Linked DNA regions of Homo sapiens. The protein of the gene in region 1 purifies or fractionates together with the protein of each later gene. This does not show direct contact. Each region holds a gene or a part of one and is shown in the gene's direction. Other genes may lie near its edges. The genes, in order: FAM187B, SPPL2B, ATP1A3, VRK2, PRSS33, CLGN and EARS2.

Region 1 (4,420 bases):
ACAGGTGTGAGCCACCGCCTGAGAAGGTGTTTAGAAAAGGGGATGGAAGGAAAGGGAGCAACTGAGAAAAATATTTGTTGAAGATGTATTGAGTCATGCAGATGGCTGAGGGAAGAGACGGGGACCAGCATGTGCAATGGTTCTGGGGCAAGAGCCCCTCTGCCTGCCTGACAGATTCAGGGAACAGCGGGAGGCCAGCGTGGTTGGAGGGTAGGGAGTAGGGGGAAAGGTGCAGGAGGTCAGAACAGTAACCAGAGATAAATTTTTTTAAATTTTTATTATTTTTTTTGAGATGGAGTTTCACGCTTGTCACCCAGGCTGGAGTGCAGCGGTGCGATCTCGGCTCACTGCAACCTCCGTCTCCCAGGTTCAAGTGATTCTCCTGCCTCAGCCTCCTGAGTAGCTGGGATTACAGATGCCCGCCACCACACCCAGCTATTTAGTAGAGACGGGGTTTCACCACGTTGGCCAGGCTGGTCTTGAACTCCTGACCTCAGGTGATCCGCCCGCCTCAGCCTCCCAAAAGTGCTGGGATTACAGGCATGAGCCACCGAGCCCAGCCCGAGAGGATTTGTTTACTGCTTTATCCCCAGTGCTAAGAAGTGTGCCCAGAACATAGTAAGAGTTCAGGAAATATGTGTTGAGTGTTCACATGTGACACCTTCATGCTCTTATTTCATCCCTGGGAATGTAGTCTCACCCCTGGGAAAGGAAGCGGGGCAGGTAGTAGAGAAAACTCTGAATAGACAAATTAAGTTTGCTCCTTTCCCAGCAAAATGGAGGGCTTGGAATAGAAATTAAATATGGTCAGCGGGGCACAGTGGCTCACGCCTGTAATCCCAACACTTTGGGAGGCCAAGGTGGGAGGATGGCTTGAAGCCAGGAGTTCGAGACCAGCTTGGGCAACATAACAAGACCCCGTCTCTACAGAAAAAATTTTAAACTAGCTGGGCATGGTTAGCATGCACCTGAAGTCCCAGCTACTCAACAGGCTGAGGTGAGAGGATTACTTGATTCCAGGAGTTTGAGGCTGTAGTGAGCTGTGATTGCAGCACTGCCTTCCAGCCTGGGTAAAAGAGCGAGTCCTTGTCTGAAAAAAAAAAAAAAAAGAAAAACAGTGTTGTCAGCTTGTCACAAAACAAAAGGGGATGGTGACCTCACACACACATGTGGTAGCTGCAATTCATCCCACTGCCCAGGGCTGAGGCCAGAGTTCATGGGTGACCTCACAATGTTCGGGGTGGCACCAGCCCACTGCCACAGCCCCAGTCCACCATGCCACCCATGCTGTGGCTGCTGCTCCACTTTGCTGCCCCGGCACTGGGGTTCTACTTTTCCATCAGCTGCCCCAGTGGTAAGCAGTGCCAACAGGCCCTACTCTCAGGCAATGATATTCTCCTGTATTGCAACTCCTCGGGGGCGCACTGGTACTATTTATTCACACAAGGCAAGAAGGGCAGGCTCACCAGCCTCACCAATATTTCCAATATGGAAATAATGCCCGAGGGCAGCCTTCTCATTAAAGATCCATTGCCCTCCCAGACGGGCCTCTACCACTGCTGGAACAAGAATGGCCGCCAAGTGGTGCAGTATGAAATTGACTTTCAGGATGTCACCACCCTGCATATAACACACAAGGACCTGGGTCAGAGGCCCCTGCAGAACGAGACCCTGCATTTGGGCAGCAAACAGCTCATTTTTACCTGGTGGGAGCCCTGGCAGGACTGCAACCGCTGTGAGGAGCCGGGCGAGTGTAAACGCCTGGGGTACCGCTACATTGAGGAGCCTCTGGAGGAAGCCATGCCCTGCTGGCTCTATCTGGGAGAGGTGCTGGTGTGGTCTAGCCGCTTGCGGCCTGAGCTGCAGGTGGAAGCCTGCCACGTCCAGTGCACCAATAACACACAGTTAAGGGTGGATTACGTCATTTTTGACAACTTCAGGCTCGATGAGAAGACAGAATTTGTGTGGCTCGACTGTCCCTTAGGATCCATGTACAGGTGATGGAATCCCTGCCTCTGGCCCCTACCCAGATTCTTCCGGTCAGGGGATCCTTCCTGGTAATATGTGCAGAGGGATGAGTGGGCGTTCTTTGCAGTTCAGCCACGTAGTGGTCATCAGGACAGTGCCAGGCCCTGCTCTTAAACAGTCCGAGGGGGACACAGCCCAGGGTGGTGCGAGCCGGGATGGGAGAAGCCCAGGCAGACAGATGGGGCTGTGATGGGGGAAGCCCAGGAAGCTTAGGGGCTCCAACAGGCCCCTGCTTCATCTGGAAAGGTCAGTGAGACCTTGGAGGAGAGGCTGGTGCCCCCGGGGCTTCCCATCAAGGCCTGCCTCCCAGAACTCACACTCATCTTCTTACTTCCTGCCAGGAGCCTCTGGAAAATAGCCCCTTCCCCTCCTCTCCCCCAGTCCACCTGCCCCTTAATAAGAAATGCAGGCTGGGCGCGGTGGCTCATGCCTGTAATCCCAGCACTTTGGGAGGCCGAGGTGGGTGGATCACCTGAGGTCAGGAGTTCGAGACCAGCCTGGCCAACATGGTGAAACCCCGTCTCTACTAGAAATACAAAAATTAGCCAGGTATGGTGGCACGTGCCTGTAATCCCAGCTACTCAGGAGGCTGACGCAGGAGAATCACTTGAACCCGGGAGGCGGAGGTTGCAGTGAGCCGAGATCACACCACTGCACTCCAGCCTGGGCAACATCACGAGACAACTCTGACTCAAAAAACAAAAAAACAAAAAAACCCCAGAAATCCATTGTCTCACCCTTCTGGAGGCCGTAAGTCTGAAATCAAGGTGTCAGTAGAACCACGCTCCCTCTCAGTCCCTCTGAGTGAGCTGGGCAGAATCCTCCTTTTTTCTAGCTTCTGGATGCAGTCAGAGATCCCGGTCTTCTCTGGCTTGTGGCTGCTTCTCTCCAATGCCCGCCTCCATCATCACTTGGCATTCTTCCTGGGTGTCTGTGTCCCTGTCTCTCTTTTCCTTTTCTTAAAAGGACACCGGTCAGATGGGATTGAGGGCCCACCTTATTCCAATATGCTCTCATCTCAACTGATTATATCTGCAATGATCCAATTTCCAAATAATGTTACATTCTGAGGTTCTGGGAAGGACATGCATTTTGCGGGGGCCACTGTCTAACTCAGTGCAGAGGTCTTGCCAGCCCCTGGCCACACAGGGTCATTGTGATGTGTTAAGGGGACTAAAGACTGTAGAGTGCCTGCCATAGCATCCAATAAGAAGTTCCACAATGTACCTAGCTGGGAATGCAAGCTTTTATGATATTGTCTGTGGAATATCCTCTCTGTTCTTCCACCACGCTGGGTGTGTCGGTGCCTGATTCATTTCTCCACTAAACACGTGTTCACTGCATATTTATATGCCAAGCTCCATTCTAGGGACCTGGGAAACAGTGAAGAACACAACCAACGGAGATTCTTGCCCTTGTGGCGCATAAATATATAGTTTTATTATTATTATTGTTATTATTATTAGAGACAGGGTCTTGCTCTTTCACCCTGGCTGGAGTACAGTGGCACAATCACAGCTCACTGCAGCCTCAATTCCCCGGGCTCAGGTGATTCTCCCATCTCAGCCTCCACAGTAGCTGGGACTACAGACATGCACTACCACACCCGGCTAAGTTTTTAAGTTTTGTAGAGATGAGGTCTCACTTTGTTGCCCAGGCTGAGCCCAAACTCCTGGGCTCAAGTGATCCTCCCACATCGGCCTCCCAAAGTGCTGGGATTACAAACCTGAGCCACTGTGCCCGACCTATAGTATTTTGGATGGTGACGGAGCAGGAAGGGATGCTGGGAATAGGGGAGGTTAAAAGTGTCAAGTGGTGGGGTCAGGGAAGGCTCCTCTGAGAAGCTGCCATTTCAGCCCAGACTGAAAGGAGGCGAGGAAGCCCTGGGGACAGAGGGAACAGCCAGGGCCAAGACTGCACCCAGCATGTCAGAGGAACATCTAGGAGAGCAGCGTGGCTAGGCAGAGTGAGTAAAGGGGAGAGTGAAGGAGATGAGACCAGACAGGCAAAGGCAGGTGGACAAATCATTTAAGGAGTGCCCTTGCTAACTCCTCCAAATAACCTTATGAGGTACAATCATTACTCTCCATTTTTTTTGGTTTGTTGTTTTCTTTTTTGGGACAGGGTCTTGCTCTGTCACCCAGGCTGGAGTGCAGTGCTGTGACTGGCTCACTGCAGCCTCAACCTCCTGGGCTCAAGTAATCCTCCCACCTCAGCCTCCTGAGCAGCCAGGACCACAGGCGCATGTCAGCATGTCCAGCTAATTTTTTAAATTTTTGCAGACATGGGTTCTTGCTTTGTTGTCCAGGCTGGTTCTGAACTCCTGGGCTCAAGCCATCCTCCTTGCCTTTGCCTCTGAAAGTGTTGGGATTACAGGTGTGAGCCACCAAGC
Region 2 (3,949 bases), about 33 Mb from region 1:
GGCCGGGCGCCGCTGCGGAGGAGAATGCGGGGGCCCCGGGGCTCTAGAGACACATCCGGCTGGGGTTGCAGGAAAGATCCAGAGGCGAGAGGCAGGCCCTGACCAGGTCTGGGGGACTCTTAGCTGGCCCCCAGTTCCCCTGGGCCTCCCCAACCCTGGTCATCAATGCAAGCTGTCCATGCGGCCTTGGGGTGCAGATCCAGAGGCACCGGCCGAGCTCCATGTGGTAGATAAGGGTCTCTACTGCTCCATGCCGGGGACCCTATCCAGTGGGCCCAGACAGAGGGGTCCTCAGAGGAGTAACAGCAGAGGGCACAGTGGGGCCCCAGGGACGAGACCTGTTCCTTTCACCGTCTTCCTGACTGGGGCACTAACACCTGCTGCTGGATGAGTCCCTCCCTCAGAGGCCCCACCTCCTTTCCCACTTAGTCCTCATGCCCCGCCTCCTTTCCCACCGCATCCCTCAGGCCCCGCCTCCTTTCCACTGCATCCTTCAGGCCCCGCCTCCTTTCCCACTGCATCCTTCAGGCCCCGCCTCCTTTCCCACTGCATCCTTCAGGCCCCGCCTCCTTTCCCACTGCATCCTTCAGGCCCCGCCTCATTTCCCACTGCATCCTTCAGGCCCCGCCTCCTTTCTCACTGCATCCTTCAGGCCCCGCCTTCTTTCCCACTGCATGCTTCAGGCCCCGCCTCCTTTCCCACTGCATGCTTCAGGCCCCGCCTCCTTTCTCATTGCATCCTTCAGGCCCCGCCTCCTTTCCCACTGCATCCCTCAGGCCCCGCCTCCTTTCTCACTTCATCCCTCAGGCCCTGCCTCCTTTTCCACTGCATCCCTCTGGCCCCGCCTCCTTTCCCACCACACCCCTCTGTCCCTGCCTCCTTTCCCACTGCATCCTTCAGGCCCCGCCTCCTTTCCCACCCCATCCCTCAGGCCCTGCCTCCTTTCCCACCGTATCCCTCAGGCCCTCTCTCCTTTCCCACCGCATCCCTCAGGCCCCGCCTCCTTTCCCACTGAGTCCCTCAGGCCCCGCCTCCTTTCCCACTGTGTCCCGCCCCCTCCTGGAGCCCTCGAGGTGTGCCGGCGAAGAGGCACTAGCATCTTCCTGTCAGCTTTATGCATAGTGTGTGCGTGTGAGCACGTGTGTAATCAGTATGTGCCTGGACATGCTCATGTGTCTGCATGTTTATGTGAGTTTGCATCAGTGTATGTGTGCATGTGCCTGAGTGTTTTTTTGTGTGTGAACACATAGGTGTGTGTCAACACATGTAATAGGTATGTGAACACATGTAATAGGTATGTGTGAAGACATGTGCCTGAGTGCATATTTCTGAGTTTGTGTGTGTGAGCACATGTGTACTAGATATGTGCATGGACATGTGTGCCTTAGTGCGTGTTTGTGTGTCAGCACACCTGTGTGTGTGAGCATGTGTGTAATAGGTGTGTGGGGGCATGTGCATGGGTCTGAATGTGTATGTCTGTTTTTATGTGCACATGTGCCTGTGAGTGTGCATGCAATAGTTTTGTGTATGGATGTGTGAGTGCATGTGTGTCTGTATGTGTGCAGGTGTGTGTAAGCATGTAGCTACATAATAGTTATGTTTGTGGATGTGTGCATGTGTCTGCACATGTGTGCGTGTGTACATGTGTAATAGGTCTGTGTGTATGTGTGTGTACATGTGGATAATAGGTTTGTGTGTGGATGTGTATGTGCCTGTGTGTTTGGGTTCGTGTGTGTGCATGAGTGTGTGTGAGTGCATGTGTAATAGGTATGTGCGTGTGAGTGTGTGAGTTCATGTGGCGTGTGTGTATGCATGTGTGTGTAATAGGTGTGTGTGCGTGAGCTTGAGTGCACAGGTATGTGCTTGTATATGCACACGTGTGCTGTGTGCTCTGGCCTGGCTGTGTGTGCGTGTGTGTGTGCATGTGTGTAATAGGCATGTGTCTGCTTGAGTGTGAGTGTGCATGTGTGTGCTTGCGTGTGCATATGTGTGCCATGTGGTCCGGCCTGGCTGTGTATGTGTGCACGTGTGTGTGCATGCACTCCAGCCTGGCTGTGGGTGTGTGTGTGTGTGCGCGCTGGCCTGGCTGCGGCTATGTGCGTGTGTGTGTGTGTGCACTCCAGCCTGGCTGTGGGTGTGTGCGTGTGCACTGGTCTGGCTGTGGGTGTGTGTGTGTGTGTGCATGTATGCATGTGTGTGCCGTGTGCTCCAGCCTGGCTGTGGACGTGTGCTTGTGTGTGCGCGTGTTCCGGCCTGGCTGTGGGTGTGTGTGTGCGTGTGCGTGTGTGTGTGCGTGTGTGTCTTGGCTTCAGGGGCTGTGAGGCCCCTGAGAGTTGGGGCTTTGTTCTCTGCACACTGGAAACCCTCCCCCTTCTCACAGATGCCTGGCCGTGGTGGGGCTGCGGTGGGGACCCACTTGGTCTTGCTGAGTGATCTGTGACGGCTCGCGGGGTGGCTCAGGTATCAGGGGACAGCCATGTCTGTGAGGACTCCGGCCCCGCTCAGATGAGGCAGCCCAGCCCGTCGCCCAGGGTCCGGCTGTGGGAGCTGCAGTAGGGATGGCTCTGCCTAGGTGGGCCGAGGCCGTGCGGGGCTTTAGGTGAGGGCTGGGATCTAACTCAGCGCAGGCTTCAGGTGGGAGAACGGGCAGCTGGGCCCTCCTGGTGACTCACATCACGTGAGACAACACTGTGCCCTGGCCTTTCCAGTCTTTCCTGCAGCTGCGCAACTGGACGGCCTCCCTGCTCTGCTCCGCAGCCGACCTCCCCGCCCGTGGCTTCAGCAACCAGATCCCGCTGGTGGCGCGGGGGAACTGCACCTTCTATGAGAAAGTGAGGCTGGCCCAGGGCAGCGGAGCACGCGGGCTGCTCATCGTCAGCAGGGAGAGGCTGGTACGGCCCTGTGCGTCCCCCGCTGGGCCAGCTCTCAGGGGCAGGAGGGGGGTGCAGGAGGCAGAGATGGCAGCAGCTGGGGCTGGTCTTCCGACTTCTCGCTAAAGGCAGATCCATCTGTGGGGAGGATCTGGGCCGAGTGTGAACATGGGGAGGATCCGGGCCGAGTGTGGCCGTGGGGAGGGCGGAGATGAGTCTGTTCTTCCTGAGCTGCTGGCTGGGGCTGTGGAACTTTGGCCGTGGTCTTGTTGGGTGCCTGTCCTAGAGCAGCCCCCAGGGGTGACGGAGACCACACTCTCTGTGGGGATGGGATTGGGGTGGCTTCTGAGGAGCAGGTGGCCTGGCCCTGAGCTGGTCCTTTCTGGGTACCCTGGTGCCCTTGCCCTCTAGCCGGTGGGGCCGTGCTCGCCTGTGGTCCTAGCCAGGTGGCCTGAAGCCTGGCCCCTTTTCCATCTTCTGTGAAATGGGGCTGTGGTTGAGAGCTGGGGGCCTGGCAGGGCTGGTCACAGCACAGGGACATGCCGACTGCTGGGCTGGGCAGGGTGCGTGGCCGCCCCTGAAGTGTAGTTTTGGAGTAAGAAGGAATGGAGTTCAGGAATTCCCTCACAGCTCTGCCTGTGGCTCTGGGCTGCCCCCGCCAGTGTTGCACCCTGAGCCTGGCAATCCACGGAGGCCTGGTGCAGGGGCTCAGGGCCGAGGGCAGAGCAGGCCGGGCAGAGCCGAGAGTGCCATCCCTGTCCGCACACGCTGCCGTCGTAGTTGAGAGAGGCCCTCAGTGGGTGCGGGGCTCAAGGCGGCTTAGTGGGCAGGCATGGGCTGTGACAAGTATCACTCAGGACTTGTATGTGCGGTTCGGGAGTCCCACGGCCGAGGGAGGGATTAGTGGCGCTTTTAGGCCTGGGGCCCTGTTGTCAGGTGAAGAAGGCTTGATGCCCTTCGGCCTCCCTGTTCTTGGGTCCTCCTGGGGGGCCGGAGGCTGTCAGCTGCAGAGGGGGAGCCAGCAGGCGCCCCCAGCCTGACCCGAGCCTCGAGTGAGGGTCCCAGGAGAGGAGGCGAAT
Region 3 (3,949 bases), 6.8 Mb from region 1:
CCACAGCAGGATGTGTGAGCCGGGGCTCTGTCCCAAGGCTGTGTGACCTCAGCGGCCTTGAGAACAGACACCAGCAGGTGGTCATGGCTTGACAGATACCCAGAGTGAGTGTCACATAGAGACCCAGGCACACCCCGCTGCTGATACATCAGGGCCCATCCCCATAACACAGGGACACATTCGAGATGCAGCCTCAGATCCCATGCGCATAACACAGACCACACACCAGCCACACAGAGCTGCTCACCTGGGTAGGCGTGTGTGCACACACACGCATGTGCACGGAGGGTCAACGCAGATGCCACACCAGGATGTGGTTTCAAACATGGCCACCTAATTCAGAAACACAGACACAGACTCAGATATACACTGACAGAGAAACTCACACACACACTGACACGCACACACACACACAGCAATGCAGGCATAACCTGGTGACAGAGAGACATGAGAGTCAGGCACAGAGAGTGTCCTCAGATGTTCAAATCTAAACAGTCTTAGACATAAGCTCTCACAGAGAGGCAGAGCTGGAGACACAGAGACAGAGATCCACACACAGAGAACCAAAGAAGCTGCCTTGTAGAATGTAAAGTCAGGCATGCAGCCAGTCAGACAGACACATGGACAGACAGCCGCATCCCAGACTCAACATGTGCAGGAGGACAGACACACACACAAAACAGATGGACAAGTCGGGCATGGTGGCTCACGCCTGTCATCCCAGCACCTTGGGAGGCCAAGGCAGGAGGGTAACTTGAGACCAGGAGTTCCAGTAGCCTGAGTAACATACCCAGACAGACCCAGCCTCTAAAAAAACACAAAACATAGCCGGGCCTGGTGGCGCACACCTGTAGTCCTAGCTACTCCGGAGGCTGAGGAGGGAGGATTGCTTGAATCTGGGAGGTTGAGGCTACAGTGAACTGAGATTGTGCCACTGTACTCCATCCTAGGCAGCAGAGCGAGACCCTGTCTCAAAAAAAAAAAAAAAAAAAAATGCCAGGAAAGATGGCTCACACCTGTAATCCCAGCACTTTGGGAGGCCAAGGTGATAGATCACAAGGTCAGGAGATCAAGACCATCCTAGCCAACATGGTGAAGCCCCATCTCTACTAAAAATACACAAAATTAGCCAGGTGTGGTGGCATGCACCTGTAGTCCCAGCTACTCAGGAGGCTGAGGCAGGAGGATCGCTTGAACCAGGAGGCGGAGATTGCAGTGAGCCAAGATCATGCCATTGCACTCCAGCCTGGGCGACAGAGTGAGACTCTGTCTCAAAAAAAAAATCGACAGACCCTTAGATTCAAACACAACCATTACAGAAAGAGGGACTCAAGCACAAACAGGGGAGACTCAGACACACCAACCCTCATAACCAACCTAGGGTCAGACACACAAATACAGACCCCCACTGACACAAAGCTCCCTTCCCAGACTCCAGGCGAGCAGGGACTGGTGGAGAGTGGCTTGGGCGGCCCCTGATCAACATCCCCACATCTCCCCACAGCTGTACCTGGGCATCGTGCTGGCGGCCGTGGTGATCATCACTGGCTGCTTCTCCTACTACCAGGAGGCCAAGAGCTCCAAGATCATGGAGTCCTTCAAGAACATGGTGCCCCAGGTGAAGGGTGCCCAGCAAGGGGCCAGACGGGGGTGTTAGTGTATGGGCTGGGGGCCGGGCCCAGTGACCCCCAGGCAGAGGGAGTCTGGGAGGTGACATTACTCCATCCCACCTCAGCAAGCCCTGGTGATCCGGGAAGGTGAGAAGATGCAGGTGAACGCTGAGGAGGTGGTGGTCGGGGACCTGGTGGAGATCAAGGGTGGAGACCGAGTGCCAGCTGACCTGCGGATCATCTCAGCCCACGGCTGCAAGGTGGGCCTGGGCCTAGGGCCCGGCTTTACCCTCCCTCGGGCTGCCCAGGAGCTCAGGCCCAGCCCCTCCTCCCTCACACTCAGGAGTCCAGGTCCCAACCCCTCCTCCCTCAGACCCAGGAGTCCAGGCCCCCAGGCCCTCCTCCCTCAGACCCAGGAGTTTAGGCCCTGGGCCACCTCCTCACCCAACAGTCAGGAGTCCAGGCCCAGCCCTCACCTTTCGGAGATCCTTAGGGACCCTAGACCTTGGCCAGCAGCACTGTGCCTTCCCCACCTTCAAGATCCCAGCCTCTGGCCTCCCACACACCACTCACCCACTGGGCACCCAGGCTTCTAGCTGTGATCTCCAGGCACACAGGCTTCAGCCCCAAGCCCTGTACACAAATACCCTCCTGTCCCAGGCCCTGGACTGAACCCTCTCTCTGCTGCACCTACCCCCAGGTGGACAACTCCTCCCTGACTGGCGAATCCGAGCCCCAGACTCGCTCTCCCGACTGCACTCACGACAACCCCTTGGAGACTCGGAACATCACCTTCTTTTCCACCAACTGTGTGGAAGGTGAGGCGGGTGCAGAGAAGACACACAGCTGGGGCAGACACAGGGATGTGTCCCAGGGGGTCAGGCCTCCAGAACCTCCCTGAGCCACCCCACCTCAGCCTAACCCCTCTGGCCTGCAGGCACGGCTCGGGGCGTGGTGGTGGCCACGGGCGACCGCACTGTCATGGGCCGTATCGCCACCCTGGCATCAGGGCTGGAGGTGGGCAAGACGCCCATCGCCATCGAGATTGAGCACTTCATCCAGCTCATCACCGGCGTGGCTGTCTTCCTGGGTGTCTCCTTCTTCATCCTCTCCCTCATTCTCGGATACACCTGGCTTGAGGCTGTCATCTTCCTCATCGGCATCATCGTGGCCAATGTCCCAGAGGGTCTGCTGGCCACTGTCACTGTAAGGCCAGGCTCCTGGGTCTGGGTGGGGAGGGCCTGGGGGTCTGGGCTCCTGGGTCTGAGGGAGGAGGGGCTGGGATCCTGGACCCCTGAGTCTGAGGGAGGAGGGGCTAGAGGCCTGGACCCGTGTGTCTGGGGGAGGAGGGGCTGGGATCTGGACCCCTGGGTCCGGAGAAGGGGCTGGGGGCCTGGATCACAGTATTCTTGTGAAAGACAACTTGGGCCTGACTCAGAGGGCCTCATTAACAAAGCAAACAATCAAAGAAAGAAACAAACAAAAATCTTGAGAAACACTGGCAAGCCGTAAAGAGCCAACAATCCTATTGCAAAATTAAGAAGTGCACGCTCATGATGAAAAGTTGAAGAGTACATCAAGTTAAAAAATAAAATAATGAGGCTGGGTGCACTGGCTCACGCTGTAATCCCAGCACTTTGGGGGGCCAAGGCGGGCAGATCAGCTGAGGTCAGGAGTTCAAGACTAGCCTGGCCAACATGGTGAAACCCTGTCTCTACTGAAAATACAAAATTAGTGGGGCGTGGTGGCACATGCCTGTAATCCCAGCTACTCAGGAGGCTGAGGCAGGAGAATCGCTTGAACCTGGGAGGCGGAGGTTGCAGTGAGCCAAGATCACGCCATTGCACTCCAGCCTGGGTGACAAGAGTGAAACTCCATCTCAAAAATAAATAAATAAATAAATAAAATAAAATAATAAGCCTGGCGCAGTGGCTCACGCCTTTAATCCCAACAGTTTGGGAGGCTGAGGCAGGAGGACTGCTTGAGGTCAGGAGTTTGAGACAAGCCTGGACAACATAGTAAGAACCCATCTCTACCAAAAAATGTGAAGGCTGGGCGCAGTGGCTCATGCCTGTAGTCCCAAGACTTTGGGAGGCCGAGGCGGGTGGATCACCTGAGGTCAGGAGTTCGAGACCAGACTGGCCAACATGGCAAAACCCCATCTCTACTAAAAGTATAAAAATTAGCCAGGCGTGGTGATGGGTGCCTGGAATCCCAGCTACTCAGGAGGCTGAGACAGGAGAATAGCTTGAGCCTAGGAGGCAGAGCTTGCAGTGAGCCGAGATCGTGCCACCTCACTCCAGCCTGGGCGACAAAAGCGAGATTCTGTCTCAAAAAAA
Region 4 (3,949 bases), on another chromosome or scaffold:
TAGGGTTTTATTTCTTTTTGGTGTCCCCTGTACCTAGTATAATGAATGAAATATAGTAGACCATTCAGTAAAGGTATCATGTGTGAGTGGACCACAAGGAGAGTTTGCTGTGTATCACCTGGATGTATATGTTGGTATACAGTGAGTGTTGTATATGTTTATGTATACAGTTCTCAGTGCTTCTAGTAAGTGTTCTCTGTAAGAAAACTACTTTTATGTGTAAGACTGTATAGGGATAGTGGTACAATATGTCGTTTAAAAATTAGATTCTTCAAGTTTATTTAGTGTTTTCTGAGATTTTTAGTGGAAATCTGGTGCCTATGTTTTATAAAAAGTGATTCAAGTACTATTATATACTACATATATATGTTCATATTTTCACAGTTGAAATAACAATTCCATCTTTGGGATTATTTTTTTCTAGTAAAATTAATTATTCTTTTTTTTATAGGAATATCAAGAAAATGGCCCGTTATTTTCAGAACTTAAATTTTATCAGAGAGTTGCAAAAAAAGACTGTAGTAAGTAAAATTAGCAAAGCAAGCTACTTCCATATATGTGCTTGCTAAAGTGAGTGTTGATATTTTGGTCTTTTTCTGGCCTTCTGGAAAATTCTTTTCAATAGAAATTTTATTGTAAAGTGATACAGTTAACTGTTACAACATATAAAAGCAAGACAGATGGTATACAAATCTTGACATGACATACATAATGGGTTATATATTTTAAGTCAAAGTTGTTTCTACTACTTTACATAAAATGTTAGGTTGTTAATCTAAGCTACCAAGAGTTCCCTAAGTGTAAAAGATAGTAGAATGAAATTATTTCTTTTACAGTAAACCATTTGGATAGGACGGCTATAAGGAAAAAACATTAAAATGGGAAGTAGATATATGTATAAAAAAAGAACGATTGTAGAATGGATTGGGGCAAGGTGTGTGGAAATGTGAAAATGATTAAACTTTAAGATGTTTAAGAAAATGTTAGAAACTTGAATGCTGGAAAATTAATTGGAGCTGGATACCAAGTGTAAGAATGACCAGTTAGAAGACTTGAATGGGAAATGAATATAAGCAGAGAGGAAAAATAACAGCATTTTATAAATGTGATATAGATGGGCTAAGAAAAACATTAAAGAAGTAGACAGGAGTAATGACTGTATAGTCAAGGTCCTTTACATCATGTTTAAGAATAAGAGTGATGGGTCTGACCTCAATATTTAACTTAGTTTTTCTTAATAAAGTCTTCTAAACATTAAGACTGTAATCTTTACTAATTGCTTAAACTATGTCACAGTGACAAATAGAATCCATTAAACTTGATTGTTTATCAGTAGAGCTGTCTTAAACATAAAAAACATAGGCTAGAGTCATGAAAAAAATGATGAAAGTTAACTTTATTTAAGTGGATTTGATTTTTTGTAAACTAATCAAAACCAGTTTTTGTATAAAGTAATTTCAAAGTAAGATGGTTTTTCTGCCCAATTTCTGCTTTTTTTTTCTTTTTTTTTTTTTTTTGGTCCATTATGGTTTTAAATCTTGAAGTAATAGGGAAGAAAAAGCCATCTCTCTACTGATCTTTTGGTGGTTAACATATGTTATATTTAGAAATTTAGCTAGTATATAAGATAATGAATTCTTTTTATAGATTGAAACATTAATATATATGGTATCAATATACAAAGCCTATGACTTGTTTTTATTGATTTAATTTAAAAATTTCTAATTTTTTGTTAATTATAGTGGTAACAGTTTGAGGCCATTAGATAGAGATGTTTGATTGAAAAAAAATTATCTTCTAGGAAGATCTAATTACTTTTTTGGTTAGCTAAATAAATTTGTCTGTAGAAAGGTGACAAGTATCTTTTCAAATAACATGAATCTTTTTAAAAATAAATTTGTCTTTGTAGTCAAAAAGTGGATAGAACGCAAACAACTTGATTATTTAGGAATTCCTCTGTTTTATGGATCTGGTCTGACTGAATTCAAGGGAAGAAGGTAAAATGGAATTATTATAATCAAATATTTCTTTATAACTATTCCTTATGTGGTCTATGAGTTAACTATTGCCATGTAACAAATTACCAAAACATATTGGCATATAACCACAAACTTGTATTGTCTTAGTTTCTGTGAGTGAGGAGACTGCAAGTGGCTTATCTGTATGATTCTAGATCAGGATCTCTAATAAGGATATGTAGTCAGCTGTCTGCTGGGTTACATTCATTTCAAGGCTCATCTGGGGAAGTATTTGTTTTCAGGGTTCCTCATGTGGCTACTGGTAGGCCTAAGAAGATCTACTTCTAATTTACTTATGTGATTGTTGGCAGGCCTTCTTACTTCCTGATCATGTGGGTCTTTGCATAAGCTACCTGAGTGTTATGAAAAATAGCTGGCTTTCTCTAGAGCAATTAATTGGGGGACGGGGAGAGCATGCACACAAGTGCATTCAAGAAGGAAGTCATCGTTTTTTGTAATCTAATCTTAAAAGGGATATTATCGCTTCTGCTTTATTCTCTTTGCTAGAAGCTAGTCACTAGATAGATCCATTGGTCCTGAGAGAGGAGAATTCAGTTCTATCTCTTGAGGAGAAGCACAACAAATAAGTTATAGAAATATCTTTAAAACCACCAAATATGGCTAGTCCTATATATAATTTATTAATAGTGTTTGAAAAAAGAAAAAAAGTGTGTCATTTTATATTTACCCTTTTGTGCCAGAGACTTTTATATACTTTATCTTATTTTGTCCTTTGAATAGCCTGTTAAAATAGGTGATATTATTTTTATTCCATAGATGAGAGAATAAGCTCAGATGTCAGTACTTTGTTGAAATGGTCTCTAAATGCTTTAAATTTAAAAAAATGAGCAAACAGTAATCTTGAAGTAAAGGACTGCCACTGGGGGACTGAATGGCTGATTGAATCATGATACATCCATATCATGTCATATGTAGCCCATTAAAGAAGTCCATTAGAGCTATACTAGTTGCCTTAGAAGGATTTTGATGAGATACTATTGAAAAAAGTAAGATGGAGAAAATACTTATAATATGATCACATTTTTGTAAAACAAATTCCTAAGTGTGTGTGTTTGTGTATGCATGCATAGATATAGAATAGGGGCTGATGTGGATATATAAATGAAGGGAAGGAAAGAAGGTATGGAAGGTGCCAAACAGAACAGAAAAGGAAGAAGTGCACTTAAAGACATGTTTATAAATGTATAGAGACGGTATATATGATCTTATCAAGAAACAAACAAATATAAAATTCATGTGGCTGGGCACGGTGGCTCATGCCTGTAATCCCAGCACTTTGAGAGGCTAAGGCAGGCGGATCATGAGGTCAAGAGGTCGAGACCATCCTGGCCAACATGGTGAAACCCCGTCTCTACTAAAAATACAAAAATTAGCTGGGTGTGGTGGTGCATGCCTGCAGTCCCAGCTACTTGGGAGGCTGAGGCAGGAGAATCGCTTGAACCTGGGAGGTGGAGGTTGCAGTGAGCTGAGATTGCACCACTGCACTCCAGCCTGGTGACAGAGCGGGACTCTGTCTCAAAAAAAAAATCAAGTGTGTACAATAATTTGTTCAAGGCCATATGGCAAGAAAGTCATGGAGTCAAAATGAATTGCATTCAGTACTATCTAATTTAGAAAGATTTTTTCATTATGTAAAACAGTGTGAATGGTTCAGTACAGCATTCTCTTATAGAAAATCAGCTGCAAAGTAAATATTGAGCAGTTTCTGCAAAAGAATAGCAGAATTATGAACGTGCATTCATTCTCTAATGGTTTAGATTGCATTATACTTAGTTGTTAGGTTGAGCGTAATTTTTCTTGTTTCAAATTAAATAGACAGTTTCAAGCATTACTTTCTCAGGATGATCTCTTTTTGATGCTTTTTTCTTACAGTTACAGATTTATGGTAATGGAAAGACTAGGAATAGATT
Region 5 (4,466 bases), on another chromosome or scaffold:
GCCCCTTCGGCTGTGGTTTTTGTTTATGGCAGCCCAAGCGGACTCCTACAGGGACACAGACCCAGACCCTGATGCTGGAGGGGAGACAAGAGGATGTAAATCAAACCTCCTCAAGTCCCTGTCAAAGGACAACTATGGGCTGGCCTCGGTGGCACATGCCTATAACCCCAGCACTTTGGGAGACTACAGCAAGAGGATCTCTTGAGCCCAGGAGTTCGAGAACAAGTTGGGCATCATTGCAAGACCCCATCTCTGGAAAAAAAAATTGCTAGGTGCTGTGGCATGCACCTGTGGTCCCAACTACTTGGGAAGCTGAGGTGGCAGGATCACTTGAGCCCAGAGGTCAAGGACGCAGGGAGTTGTGATTGTACCACTGCACTCCAGCCTGGGTGACAGAGCAAGACCCTGTCTCTCTCTCCCTTTTTATTTTTTTTTGAGACAGAATCTCACTGCGTCGCCCAGGCTGGAGTGCAGTGGCATAATCTCGGCTCACTGCAACTTCCACCTCCCGGGTTCAAGCAATTCCTGTGCCTCAGCCTCCCGAGTAGCTGAGATTGCAGGCGCCCACCATCAGGCCTGGCTAATTTTTGTATTTTTAGTAGAGACGAGGTTTCACCATGTTGGCCAGGCTCGTCTCAAACCCCTGACCTCAAATGAGCCACCCATCTCGGCTTCCCAAAATGCAGGGATTACAGGCATGAGCCACCATGCTTGGCCAAGACCCTGTCTCTTTAAAAAAAAAAAGAAAGAAAAACAAAAAAAAAAAAAAGGAAAAAAGTACAACTATGGCAGGGCTGCAAAGGAGGCAGGAGGAGGTGGCAGAGCAGAAGGCTGAGGGATAAGAGGAGTTCACTATGCAGAGAGGGACTTGAGAGACTTCTAGGCAGCGAACACTGTGTATGAGCCCAAGAGGGAACTACAGGGCCCTGGACCATCCGGGCCCCGGTCCTCCACGGGCCTCGAGAGAAGGGGAGTTCCTGTCCCCTGACCCCAGCATCTTGCTCTGTCTCGGCCACCCCAAACCAAAGACTGCACTGGTCCCCAAGGTCAAGTCTCCCCCTGCCTCTGGTCAAGTAAGGAGTGCCACCAACTTTGAACCAGTCCCTTTCCACCTCCAGCTGCTCCAGACCCCGGATCTGGAAGGGGGCTGGCCATGCTGGGGTCTCTGGGTGGAGCTGTCTGGCCAGGACTTCCGTCTGAGATGGGATTTCTGGACAGAACAATGGAGCGCAGAAGCTCCAGCAACGTGTGCTCTGCAGGGAGCCCAGGTCAGGTTTGGAGAGGAGTTGCCCCGGATCCTGCAGAGCTTCCCCACCTGACTGCCACCCCTCCCAGCACCTACCCGCACCACTGCTCTCCGCCAGCCCCCACTTCTAGTACCTTGGCGCAAGGCAGGCTTCCTTTGAGAAACCCATTGACCCTTTCCTGCCACCTCTGAAGCTCTGCTCAAAGCATCTTTGTTTGAGGCTGGTCCGGTAAAGCCACAGCCCCGCCCCGGCCCTGTTCATTACTCCTTGGCTGAGCCTCGCGCTCTCCTGGCACTTTAAGCCCCCAGGCCCTCCCTCAACCCCAGTCAGCAGAAGGCGCCAGGCTGTGAGGGTGAGAGCAAGCCAGGGGCTGTGGGGGCTGCAGGGGCAGCCAGTGGGTGAGGATGAGGGTGAGGACGAGGAGGGGTGAAGGATGGGGGAGGGGGTGAGGATGAGGGAAGTGGTGAAGATGAGGGAGGGGAGTGAGGAGGAAGGGGGTGAGGATAGAGGAGGGGGTGAGGATGAGGGAGGGGGTGACGATGGGGGGGTGAAGGATGGAGGAGGGGTGATGAGAGAGGAGTGAGGATGAGGGAGGGGGTGAAGGATGAGGGAGGGGGTGAGGATGAGACAGGGGTGAGGATGAGGGAGGGGGTGAGGATGAGGGAGGGGAGTGAGGAGGAGGGGGCTGAGGATGGAGGAGGGGGTGAGGATAGAGGAGGGGTGAGGATGAGGGAGGGGTGAGGATGAGAGAGGGGTGAGGATGAGAGGTGAGGATGAGGGAGGGGGTGAGGATGAGGGAGGGGAGTGAGGAGGAGCAGGGGTGACGATGGAGGACGGGGTGAGGATAGAGGAGGAGGTGAGGATGAGGGAGGGGGTGAGGATGAGAGAGGGATGAGGATGAGGGAAGGGGTGAGGATAAGGGAGGGGAGTGAGGAGGAGGGGGGTGAGGATGGAGGAGGGAGTGAGGATGAGGGAGGGGGTGAGGATGAGGGAGGGGGTGAGGATGGGGGAGGGGGATGAGGGAGGGAGTGAGGATGACCGAGGGGGGTTAGGCTCCAGGGCTTCTGTCGAGACCAAGGATGCCCAAATATCTGGGTGGTGGGTGCTGCATACCTGGGCCCTGGGCAGAACGAAGGGTATACAGCCTGGGCCACCAGGATAAGTCCAGAACCCACCAGGAGCTGAGGACAGACAGAAGGACCACGGAGGGGGTGACGGGCTGGTGTGAGGATTGGTGCCCCTGGGCCAGGACTCTCCTCTCTTCTCCCTGCTGGCTCCAGACCAGAGTCCAAGCCCTAGGCAGTGCCACCCTTACCCAGCCCAGCCTTGAAGACAGAATGAGAGGGGTTTCCTGTCTCCAGGTCCTGCTCCTTCTGGTGCTGGGTGAGTGGGGACAGGGACTGGGGGTGAGGGCCGCAGACACCTTGGCTCCCAGTTCTCCCATCTCACTGCTCCCTGGGCCGGGCTCCCTGGAGCACTCTTGGGCTTTCTAATCTTGATTCCAAGGGCTCAATCCTCTCTGCCACTGACCTTGACCTCACCACACCTCGATGTGCTTGTCGGTGTCATGCTCATACGCCCTTGCCCCCTGCACCTTCACAGTGCTCTGGGGAGGGTTAAATAAGATAACAGACGGCACGAAAGCCTGGCGCAATGTCAGGGCAACATTGTTTCACCCTCCTTCCTCATCTCTGGCCTCCCCTCCAACTCCGTTATTTGACACCAAATCTATAATCTGGTCCCTTCCCTGCTTCCTCCTCCAGGAGCTGCTGGGACTCAGGGAAGGAAGTCTGCAGGTGAGGAAGCCTCGGAGTCCACCCGAGTCAGCCCCTCCTGGACCTCGGCCCCGTGTCTCCCCACCAACACCTGCCTCCCAGGCCCCAGGTCCTCAGCCAACCCTCACCGCCCCTGGTCCTTTTCTAGCCTGCGGGCAGCCCCGCATGTCCAGTCGGATCGTTGGGGGCCGGGATGGCCGGGACGGAGAGTGGCCGTGGCAGGCGAGCATCCAGCATCGTGGGGCACACGTGTGCGGGGGGTCGCTCATCGCCCCCCAGTGGGTGCTGACAGCGGCGCACTGCTTCCCCAGGTCAGCGCTCACCGAGGGCCCAGGCGGGGTGTGCAAGGAAGGCAAGGCCCGCAGAGGACCGGGCGTGGCCTGGCAGAGGCGTTGGGGTCGAGGCGGGCTGGAGGGGGTCGAGGACCCGGTGCTGGAAGTAGTCCCCCGCTCCTGTCCTGCAGGAGGGCACTGCCAGCTGAGTACCGCGTGCGCCTGGGGGCGCTGCGTCTGGGCTCCACCTCGCCCCGCACGCTCTCGGTGCCCGTGCGACGGGTGCTGCTGCCCCCGGACTACTCCGAGGACGGGGCCCGCGGCGACCTGGCACTGCTGCAGCTGCGTCGCCCGGTGCCCCTGAGCGCTCGCGTCCAACCCGTCTGCCTGCCCGTGCCCGGCGCCCGCCCGCCGCCCGGCACACCATGCCGGGTCACCGGCTGGGGCAGCCTCCGCCCAGGAGGTAAGGCAGGAGGGCGGGGCTCCGAGGCATCCGGGAGCCCCCACGTCCTCCTCCATCTGACTGGAAATCCCAGCCCCTCACTGCCCCAATCCAGGACCCAGCGCGGCTTCTAGGGAACAAAACCTCCTCTCACTCAGAGCTCAGCTTCTCCCACTGGCCCCCGCTCCACGCCTTCCTCTCAGAGGTCCCTCCTCTTCCCCCAGTGCCCCTCCCAGAGTGGCGACCGCTACAAGGAGTAAGGGTGCCGCTGCTGGACTCGCGCACCTGCGACGGCCTCTACCACGTGGGCGCGGACGTGCCCCAGGCTGAGCGCATTGTGCTGCCTGGGAGTCTGTGTGCCGGCTACCCCCAGGGCCACAAGGACGCCTGCCAGGTGTGCACCCAGCCTCCCCAGCCTCCGGAGTCCCCTCCCTGTGCCCAGCACCCTCCCTCCCTGAACTCCAGGACCCAGGACATCCCAACTCAGGCTCAGGATCCTGGCCTCCAACCTAGAGGCACCACGCCAGGGGTCTGGAACCCTGAGAACTGAAGTCCTGGGAGGGCTGGGACTTAGGCTCCTCTTTCTCCTGCAGGGTGATTCTGGGGGACCTCTGACCTGCCTGCAGTCTGGGAGCTGGGTCCTGGTGGGCGTGGTGAGCTGGGGCAAGGGTTGTGCCCTGCCCAACCGTCCAGGGGTCTACACCAGTGTGGCCACATATAGCCCCTGGAT
Region 6 (3,949 bases), on another chromosome or scaffold:
ATGAAGCTATGTGTATATATATATATGTGTATATATATATATATACATATATATATATATACATATATATATATATATGTATATATATATGCTCCAGCCAGGCATGGTGGCTCATGCCTGTAATCCCAGCACTTTGGGGGGCTGAGGTGGGTGGATCACCTGACGTTAGGAGTTCAAGACCAACCTGGCCAACATAGTGAAACCCCATCTCTACTAAAAATACAAAAACTTAGCCAGGCGTGGTGGCAGGTGCCTGTAATCCCAGCTACTCTGGAGGCTGAGGCAGGAGAATTGCTTGAACCCGGAAGGCAGAGGTTGCAGTGAGCTGAGGTCGCACTATTGCACTCCAGCCTGGGAAACAAGAACAAGACTCCACCTCAAGAAAAAAATAATAATAATGGAGCTCCTCGAACAGTCTTGACACATAGTAAGCATGCAATATATATTTGTTGATGAATGACTGAGTTTTTAAGTAACAAAAGCAAGGTCTAATACATTATGTATAGAATGCTATCATTCGTATTAAAAAAAAGAATGTATACGTGTGTGCATGTATGCATAGAGCACAACAGGGAATATGTACCAAAAATTGGCAAGTTAGCAAAAGATTTAGGTGGGTAGTAGATGAGGACAAATAACAGGCACAAACAAAAGGGAGGGAAATAATTTTATGGTACCTTCTTAGTGTTGTAACATGCATTTTTAAACTTTCTGAATAATTAGTAATATAAAACGTTGTATTTACAGGGATGAAAGTGAACCTGCCCAAATAGAAGATTCAAGTGTTGTTAAACCTGCTGGCTGGCTTGATGATGAACCAAAATTTATCCCTGATCCTAATGCTGAAAAACCTGATGACTGGTAAGCACTCTTCATCTTCAAATGTCGATTTCAAATGTTTCTTACATGCATTTTTGTTACTAGTTTATATGACTGATCTGAGACTTGAGGTTACTGTATTTGCTTTGTTTTAATATCCTAAGGAATGAAGACACGGATGGAGAATGGGAGGCACCTCAGATTCTTAATCCAGCATGTCGGATTGGGTGTGGTGAGTGGAAACCTCCCATGATAGATAACCCAAAATACAAAGGAGTATGGAGACCTCCACTGGTCGATAATCCTAACTATCAGGTAACAACCGCTTGTTCCAATTATTTAGTGAAGTTAAAAATGTTGTGATCTTTTCTATTTAAATATCTAATTACCTATGTCAACTTTTGGAAGTTTCATTTTTAATTTTAAGATGTCAAAGAAAATAGACCTCAACTAATTTATATTTTAAAAGTAGAGCATCAATTATTTAATTTTCTGGGGAAATAAATCACTTCATACTATATTCTTCCCTAATTATCAGTTGATGCTCACTTTGAAATAAAGTTCTATTTTAGAAGTAAATATAAGAAGTGAATTTTGATCAAATAGACTCATATTGTACATTTTAGTAATTAATGCCTGTGCTTAATTAATGTACTTATTATTTAGTATTATTAAAATTCTGATTTTTGGCCAGGTACGGTGGCTCATGCCTGTAATCCCAGCACTTTGGGAGTCCAAGGCGGGCGGATCACGAGGTCAGGAGATGGAGACCACCCTGGTCAACATGGTGAAACCCTGTCTCCACTAAAAATACAAAAAATTAGCCAGATGTGGTGGCGCACGCCTGTAGTCCCAGCTACTCAGGAGGCTGAGGCAGGGGAATCTCTTGGACCCTGGAGGTGGAGATCGCAGTGAGCTGAGATCGTGCCACTGCACTCCCGCCTGGCGACACAGCAAGACTCAAAACAAAAAAACAAAAAAACAAAAAACCTGGCCTGGCGTGATCTTGGCTCACTGCAGCCTCTGCCTCCTGGGCTCAGGCGATTCTCCTGATTCACCCTCCTACGTAGCTGAGATTACAGGCACACCCCAGCACGCCCGGCTAACTTTTGTATTTTTAGCGGAGACGGGGTTTCACATGTTGGTCAGGCTGGTCTCGAACTCCTGACCGTGATCCGCCCACCTTGGCCTCCCAAAGTGCTCAGGTTACAGAAGTAAGCCACCGAACCCAGCCCTGATTTTTTTCTGATATCAATCGACATCTTTTGAGTGTACCTAGCTTTTTATATTAAAAGTTTCTATGTTATCCACTTAACCCTCTAGTTTTATCTTTGTAATTATTTATGGATACGTTCTAACATTATATATATGCAGTTTCATATTCTAATTACTCACTGTAGTTTTTATTAAAAGCATTTAACACAAAATGTTTCTTTTGGTAAATTTTTTTGTTTGATGTCTGTCTCTTTTATTTGACTTTAAACTCCATAATACAGGAACCATGTATGTCTCCATCATCTGGCATAGTGCCTGGCCCAGAATACATACATGTGATGGTGGAGTGAGTCAGTGAGCAATGATATTGTTGAATGTATTTGATTTAATGGACAGTTTAATCATTTAAGATCTAATGGAAGTTTTAGGTTGAGTAGTTGTGCCGAGATTCAACCATACCTGATTAATGATATCTGTCATGGGTATATGTTAAATGGAGTAACTCCATTTTTGCTATACAATGATCTTTCTGATTTGGACAACTTGAATAACATTTTGCAATGAATAACTTTACTAAATCTAAAAATTTGTCCAAAGTAGACAAATTGTGAAATTTATTCACGTTTCTGTTTATGTTGGATTTTCCCTTTTCCTTTTCTTGCAGAATTTAAAGTTAGTATCACTCGTAGGGAACATTGTGTACACAGCAAAAGAAACAAGATTTTATATCCAGTATATTACTAATGAATTAATATCAGTTAAAATTCTCTTTTTTCCAGTTAGCATTGCGAATTTCATTCAACAGCAGCTACTTATTAAGCAGCATTTATAATGAAGTTATTTTATTTGAAAATGTCTTCAATTACTTTTCTTCCAGGGAATCTGGAGTCCTCGAAAAATTCCTAATCCAGATTATTTCGAAGATGATCATCCATTTCTTCTGACTTCTTTCAGTGCTCTTGGTTTAGAGCTTTGGTCTATGACCTCTGATATCTACTTTGATAATTTTATTATCTGTTCGGAAAAGGAAGTAGCAGATCACTGGGCTGCAGATGGTTGGAGATGGAAAATAATGATAGCAAATGCTAATAAGGTATGGTGTTGACCAATAGCAGTAGTGATATAACTATGAATAATAATACTTGGTCTTGGTTGTAGGTTATTCAGATGGCTCTTTTAAATGCAAATAAATGTGCAGTAACTACTAAATGCCAAGGAAATGTGTTTGAATAAGTTTATGTAGACAGAATATTTTGCTTTTTATGTTACTTCATTATGAGCTATATATGCATATGTAAGTCCTCATTTTATTCATTAAATTATAACATCACTAATGGGATTTAATGCTTATTTACTGTTCATAGAAGAAGACTACTTAATATCTTTGTCATCTTGCCAGTTCAAGACCTAAGTGACAATGATAATCTAAATATTACTGTTTATTTAACTATTTTTTACTTAGAGGAATGTACAAAGAATTTATAGTTTAACATTATTAAATTCTGTTCCAGTTTTTTCCCGAAACCTTAACACTGTTTAGAAAAGGTTGGGCTAAATATTTCAACACAATGCATCTTAGAAAATGTATCATTAAATTCAGTTGCTATAAAGAAAAATTCTTACCTTACATTTGGTTCCTTGGGTCACTAGCGAAAAACCATCAAAAGAGTAGGTGAAGAGGGATTCTTGTTTTGAACCTCTTGTAACTAAAACATTTGATTTTTTAAATTTTATTTTAATAAGAGAAATAATATCCTTACTGAGGGTCTTATGTGTGAAATGTGTTTATATAAAAAAGAAAACAATTCTGAGGTATGATTTTTAGTAAGTTCTTTAAAAGTACAGAATGAATGATCAGAGTACAGAATGAATGATCACTTCAAATAAACCAGGTAATACATCCATAAAAGGTAGT
Region 7 (3,949 bases), on another chromosome or scaffold:
GATGTAAGAGGCTTTGTTTTCAGCAGCTGGGTTCCTCTTTTGTCTTGGGGACTCGTGGGACTCAGTGCCACTGAATACCACTGGTTTTCTGGTGTCCTTGCAGTAACTATCCGAAGGTTACACACATCAGTGTTGAAGCAGGGTCGGCCTGGCCCCAGAAGAGCTTTTTCTCTCCTCTGCTGCCTCTTGTACTTGTAAATGTAGATGAGCTCATTGTGGAGACTTAGGGCTGTGGGCTGGTCCGAAGAAGGTACGGTAAGAGGTAATGACAACTCTGGAAAAGCTGTTAACTTTCAGTTTTCAGACAGGAATGATGAAAAAGGCAAATCTTAGGAGTTTAAACTGATGAAGAGAAATACAGTGGAATCAAACACTACTTTTGGTTAGTGTTTAAAGCCAGCAATTAGGGTGAAAATCTTGGCAAGGCATGGTGGCTCATGCCAGTAATCCCAGCACTTTGGGAGGCTGAAGTGTAAGGATTGCTTGAGCCCAGGAGTTTGAGACCAGCCTGGGCAACATAGTGAGACCTTGCCTCTGCAAAAAAAAAACCAAAAAACAAATATTAGCCGGGCATGGTGGTGTACACTTGTAGTTCCAGCTACTTGGGAGGCTGACGTGGGAGGATTGATTGAGCCTGGGTGGTTGAGGCTGCAGTGAGCCGTGACTGTACCACTGGACTTCAGCCTGGGCAAGAGTGAGACCCCATCTCAAATTTCAAAAATGAATTTTGTTTCTTTAAAAAAGTAAAAATCTCAAGTAGATGAAATTTAAAATGTACGACGTGGACAGTCATGCACACTGCATAGACTGCATATGCAAAATGTGATTTTTTTTTTTTTTTTGGAGATGGAGTCTCGCCCTGTCGCCCAGGCTGGAGTGCAATGGTGCGATCTCGGCTCACTGCAACCTCTGTCTCCTGGGTTCAAGCAGTTCTCCTGCCTCAACCTCCCAAGTAGCTGGGATTACAGGCGCCCACCACCATGCCCAGCTAATTTTTTTTGTGGTATTTTTAGTAGAGACGGGGTTTCAACATGTTGGCCAGGCTGGCCTCAAACTCCTGACTTTGTGATCCACCCGCCTCGGCCTCCCAAAGTGCTGGGATTAAAGGTGTGAGCCACCATGCCCCACCGATTTTTTTTTTCTTTGTAGAGACAGGATCTCACAATGTTGCCCAGGCTGGTCTCAAATTTAGAGACCCAGGTGATCCTCGTGCCTCTGCCTCCAAAAGTGCTGGGATTAGAGGTGTGAGCTACTGCACCTGGCCCACAATATGATTGTACAGTATTTTAAATTTCTAGTTTGTTTGTAATTAATTTTTTTCCCAGCGCACATCATTGAATTTCTGTAAGTTAAATGTACATGATATGGCCTCAATGAATAACTCTCTGCTTCTCTTTCAGGCGAAACTTGGCCTTGAGACAAATATCAAAATAGAGTGGTGGATGCAGTTGGGGAAAATTGGAGCCTTTTAATAAAATGACATGCTCCAAATCCTGGGTGGTTTCCATTTTCAGGATGAGGGATTAAATGTGTCTGGAGACAGGGCACAGGGGTAACTAGTTCTTAGTCTTTGAAAAAAAATTTTTTAATTTTTAATTTTTTTTGTTTGAGACAGAGTCTCACTCTACTGCTGCCCAGGCTGGAGTGCAGAGGCGTGATCATGGCTCGCTGCAGCCTCAGCGTCCCCAGGCTCAGGTGATCCTCCCACCTCAGTAACTGAAACCACAGGCATGTACCACCATGCCCAGCTAAATTTTTATATTTTTTGCTAAGACAAGGTCTCACCATGTTGCCCAGGCAGATCTCAAACTCAGGCCAAGCACAATGGCTCACGCTTGTAATCCCAGCACTTTGGGAAGCCAAGGCAGATGGATCACTTGAGGTCAGGAGTTCGAGATCAGCCTGACCACCATGGCAAAATCCTATCTTTACTAAAAATACAAAAATTGGCCAGGTGTGATGGCTCTTGCCTGTGATCCCAGCACTTGGGAGGCCGAGGCTGGGGGGATCACTTGAGGCCAGGAGTTCAAGACCAGCCTTGCCAACATGGCGAATGCCTGTCTCTACCAAAAATACAAACATGTAGCTGGACGTGGTGGCACACACCTGTAATCCCAGCTACTCGGGAGGCTGGGCATGAGAATTGCTTAAACACAAGAGGCAGAGGTTGCAGTGAGCCAAGACTGTGCCACTGCACTCCAGCTTGGGTGACAGAGTGAGACTCTTGTCTTAAAAAACCTACAGGAACCTCCTGGGCTCAAGTGATCCCCCCGGCCTTGGCCTCCCAAAGTGGTAGGATTACAGGCGTGAGCCAATGTGTCCTGCTGGTCTTTTAAATTTATTGCAACATTCTGTCACAGTAGTGCTTACTTGCCCCTTGCTGAGGCCTATTAGCTTATCTTCCCTGTCTTATCTGAGCTGTTCTCTTCTCCAGGCTTCTTGCACCTGGGTGGCCTCCGCACTGCCTTGTACAACTACATCTTTGCTAAGAAGTACCAGGGGAGCTTCATCCTGAGGCTAGAGGACACAGATCAGACTCGCGTTGTGCCTGGGGCAGCGGAGAATATTGAGGACATGCTGGAGTGGGCAGGTAAGCCTGGCAGAGAAAGGATCTTTCTGCAGGGAAGGAACAGGAAGCAGGAAAAGGAGCCTGTGGGTCTTCTCATGGAGTTCTGAGTGGAAAATGGGGAGTTCCTGGAGAAGTGGCTACATTTGTACTGCCCTGCCCGGGGTGGCAGATGACACCTGAAAAAATGCCGAAGCTCTCTGAAACACAGCTCCAAGACTGGTTTCTTTATTTTTATTTATTTATTGTTTTTGAGACAGAGTCTTGCTCTGTTGCCCAGGCTGGAGTGCAGTGGTGCGATCTCGGCTCACTGCAAGCTCCGCCTTCCGGGTTCACGCCATTCTTCTGCCTCAGCCTCCAAGTAGCTGGAACTACAGGCGCCCGCCACCACGCCCGGCTAAGTTTTTTTGTATTTTTAGTAGAGACGGGGTTTCACTGTGTTAGCAAGGATGATCTTGACCTCCTGACCTCGTGATCCACCTGCCTCGACCTCCCAAAGTGCTGGGATTATAGGCATGAGCCACCGCGCCCAACTTGGTTTCTTTATTTTTTAATTTTTTAGAGTCAGGGTCTCATTTTGTTACCCAGGCTAGAGTTCCATGGCACAATCATAACTTACTGTAGCCTCGACCTGGGCTCAAGTGATCCTCCACCTTAGCCTCCCAAGTAGTTGGGACTACAGGCACGCACCACCACGCCTGGCTAATTTTTAATTTTTTTGTAGAGATGAGATCTCACTGTGTTGCCCAAGCTATTCTCAAACTCCTGGGCTCAAGCAATCCTCCTGCTACAGCCTCCCAAAGAGCTGGGATTACAGGTGTGAGCCACTGCCAAGGCTGTTTTGAGATTCCTGTTTTCACCTCAGAATCTCAAGTTCATTCCCTACAGGGGCCAGGCAGGAAACACAGGGCCAAGTGGGAACTGGAGGAGCTGGGCCAGTGCTGAGCTGTGAAAACCACACCTCATCCAGAGTTGGGAGTGCCTCTGAGCTCCAGCTCCTTGTGCCCATGCGGGAATGCTGGCCCAGCTTGTCCAATCCTCTGAGTTGCAAGAGGAGCCAGAAATCCAGTTTTTCTGGATGAATACTTAACCATTATTAAATCTGGGCTCAGATTTTTTTTAACCATGTTGTATAAGCCACACAAAACACGTACAGCTTCTGAAGTTGATCTTGTGGGAAGTTTTATCCTGAGGACAGCTAAGGTCAGGGAGAACAAAGAGGAGTGTGTTTCCTTTTCATGGGTCGACAGTTGTCTACCTGTATGGACGGGTGTGACTAGGAAAGGGGAGATTCCCAAGGAAAAATACCAAGACTCTGCTAGTCTAGAGATTGAAAAAAAAAGAAAGAAAAACCCCAAGACTATTTTGAGATGTGTGTTCTAA

What was found.
Region 2: the proteins of FAM187B (region 1) and SPPL2B purify together in Homo sapiens (affinity purification with mass spectrometry; 3 studies listed by BioGRID and IntAct, with this or other methods). This does not show direct contact.
Region 3: the proteins of FAM187B (region 1) and ATP1A3 purify together in Homo sapiens (affinity purification with mass spectrometry, with the first as the bait; one large-scale study listed by BioGRID). This does not show direct contact.
Region 4: the proteins of FAM187B (region 1) and VRK2 purify together in Homo sapiens (affinity purification with mass spectrometry; 3 studies listed by BioGRID and IntAct, with this or other methods). This does not show direct contact.
Region 5: the proteins of FAM187B (region 1) and PRSS33 purify together in Homo sapiens (co-immunoprecipitation; one large-scale study listed by IntAct). This does not show direct contact.
Region 6: the proteins of FAM187B (region 1) and CLGN purify together in Homo sapiens (affinity purification with mass spectrometry, with the first as the bait; one large-scale study listed by BioGRID). This does not show direct contact.
Region 7: the proteins of FAM187B (region 1) and EARS2 purify together in Homo sapiens (co-immunoprecipitation; one large-scale study listed by IntAct). This does not show direct contact.

Annotation. Positions count from the first base shown.
Region 1 is NC_000019.10:35,225,536-35,229,955, reverse strand, and holds the start of FAM187B (protein FAM187B precursor), read left to right. Parts: upstream 1-1,216; 5' UTR 1,217-1,275; coding exon 1,276-1,997; intron 1,998-4,420.
Region 2 is NC_000019.10:2,334,735-2,338,683, forward strand, and holds part of SPPL2B (signal peptide peptidase-like 2B isoform 2 precursor), read left to right. Parts: intron 1-2,708; coding exon 2,709-2,891; intron 2,892-2,897; exon of another isoform or gene 2,898-3,949. UniProt on the Homo sapiens protein: Intramembrane-cleaving aspartic protease (I-CLiP) that cleaves type II membrane signal peptides in the hydrophobic plane of the membrane. Functions in ITM2B and TNF processing.
Region 3 is NC_000019.10:41,983,785-41,987,733, reverse strand, and holds part of ATP1A3 (sodium/potassium-transporting ATPase subunit alpha-3), read left to right. Parts: intron 1-1,504; coding exon 1,505-1,618; intron 1,619-1,735; coding exon 1,736-1,870; intron 1,871-2,310; coding exon 2,311-2,428; intron 2,429-2,547; coding exon 2,548-2,816; intron 2,817-3,949. UniProt on the Homo sapiens protein: This is the catalytic component of the active enzyme, which catalyzes the hydrolysis of ATP coupled with the exchange of sodium and potassium ions across the plasma membrane.
Region 4 is NC_000002.12:58,084,430-58,088,378, forward strand, and holds part of VRK2 (serine/threonine-protein kinase VRK2), read left to right. Parts: intron 1-451; coding exon 452-521; exon of another isoform or gene 522-570; intron 571-1,909; coding exon 1,910-1,997; intron 1,998-3,911; coding exon 3,912-3,949. UniProt on the Homo sapiens protein: Serine/threonine kinase that regulates several signal transduction pathways.
Region 5 is NC_000016.10:2,784,666-2,789,131, reverse strand, and holds the start of PRSS33 (serine protease 33 precursor), read left to right. Parts: upstream 1-1,571; 5' UTR 1,572-1,599; exon of another isoform or gene 1,600-1,657; intron 1,658-2,527; 5' UTR 2,528-2,584; coding exon 2,585-2,630; intron 2,631-3,010; coding exon 3,011-3,043; intron 3,044-3,170; coding exon 3,171-3,333; intron 3,334-3,485; coding exon 3,486-3,757; intron 3,758-3,960; coding exon 3,961-4,130; intron 4,131-4,329; coding exon 4,330-4,466. UniProt on the Homo sapiens protein: Serine protease that has amidolytic activity, cleaving its substrates before Arg residues.
Region 6 is NC_000004.12:140,393,004-140,396,952, reverse strand, and holds part of CLGN (calmegin precursor), read left to right. Parts: intron 1-747; coding exon 748-861; intron 862-983; coding exon 984-1,134; intron 1,135-2,911; coding exon 2,912-3,127; intron 3,128-3,949. UniProt on the Homo sapiens protein: Functions during spermatogenesis as a chaperone for a range of client proteins that are important for sperm adhesion onto the egg zona pellucida and for subsequent penetration of the zona pellucida.
Region 7 is NC_000016.10:23,550,790-23,554,738, reverse strand, and holds part of EARS2 (nondiscriminating glutamyl-tRNA synthetase EARS2, mitochondrial), read left to right. Parts: intron 1-2,434; coding exon 2,435-2,590; intron 2,591-3,949. UniProt on the Homo sapiens protein: Non-discriminating glutamyl-tRNA synthetase that catalyzes aminoacylation of both mitochondrial tRNA(Glu) and tRNA(Gln) and participates in RNA aminoacylation for mitochondrial protein translation.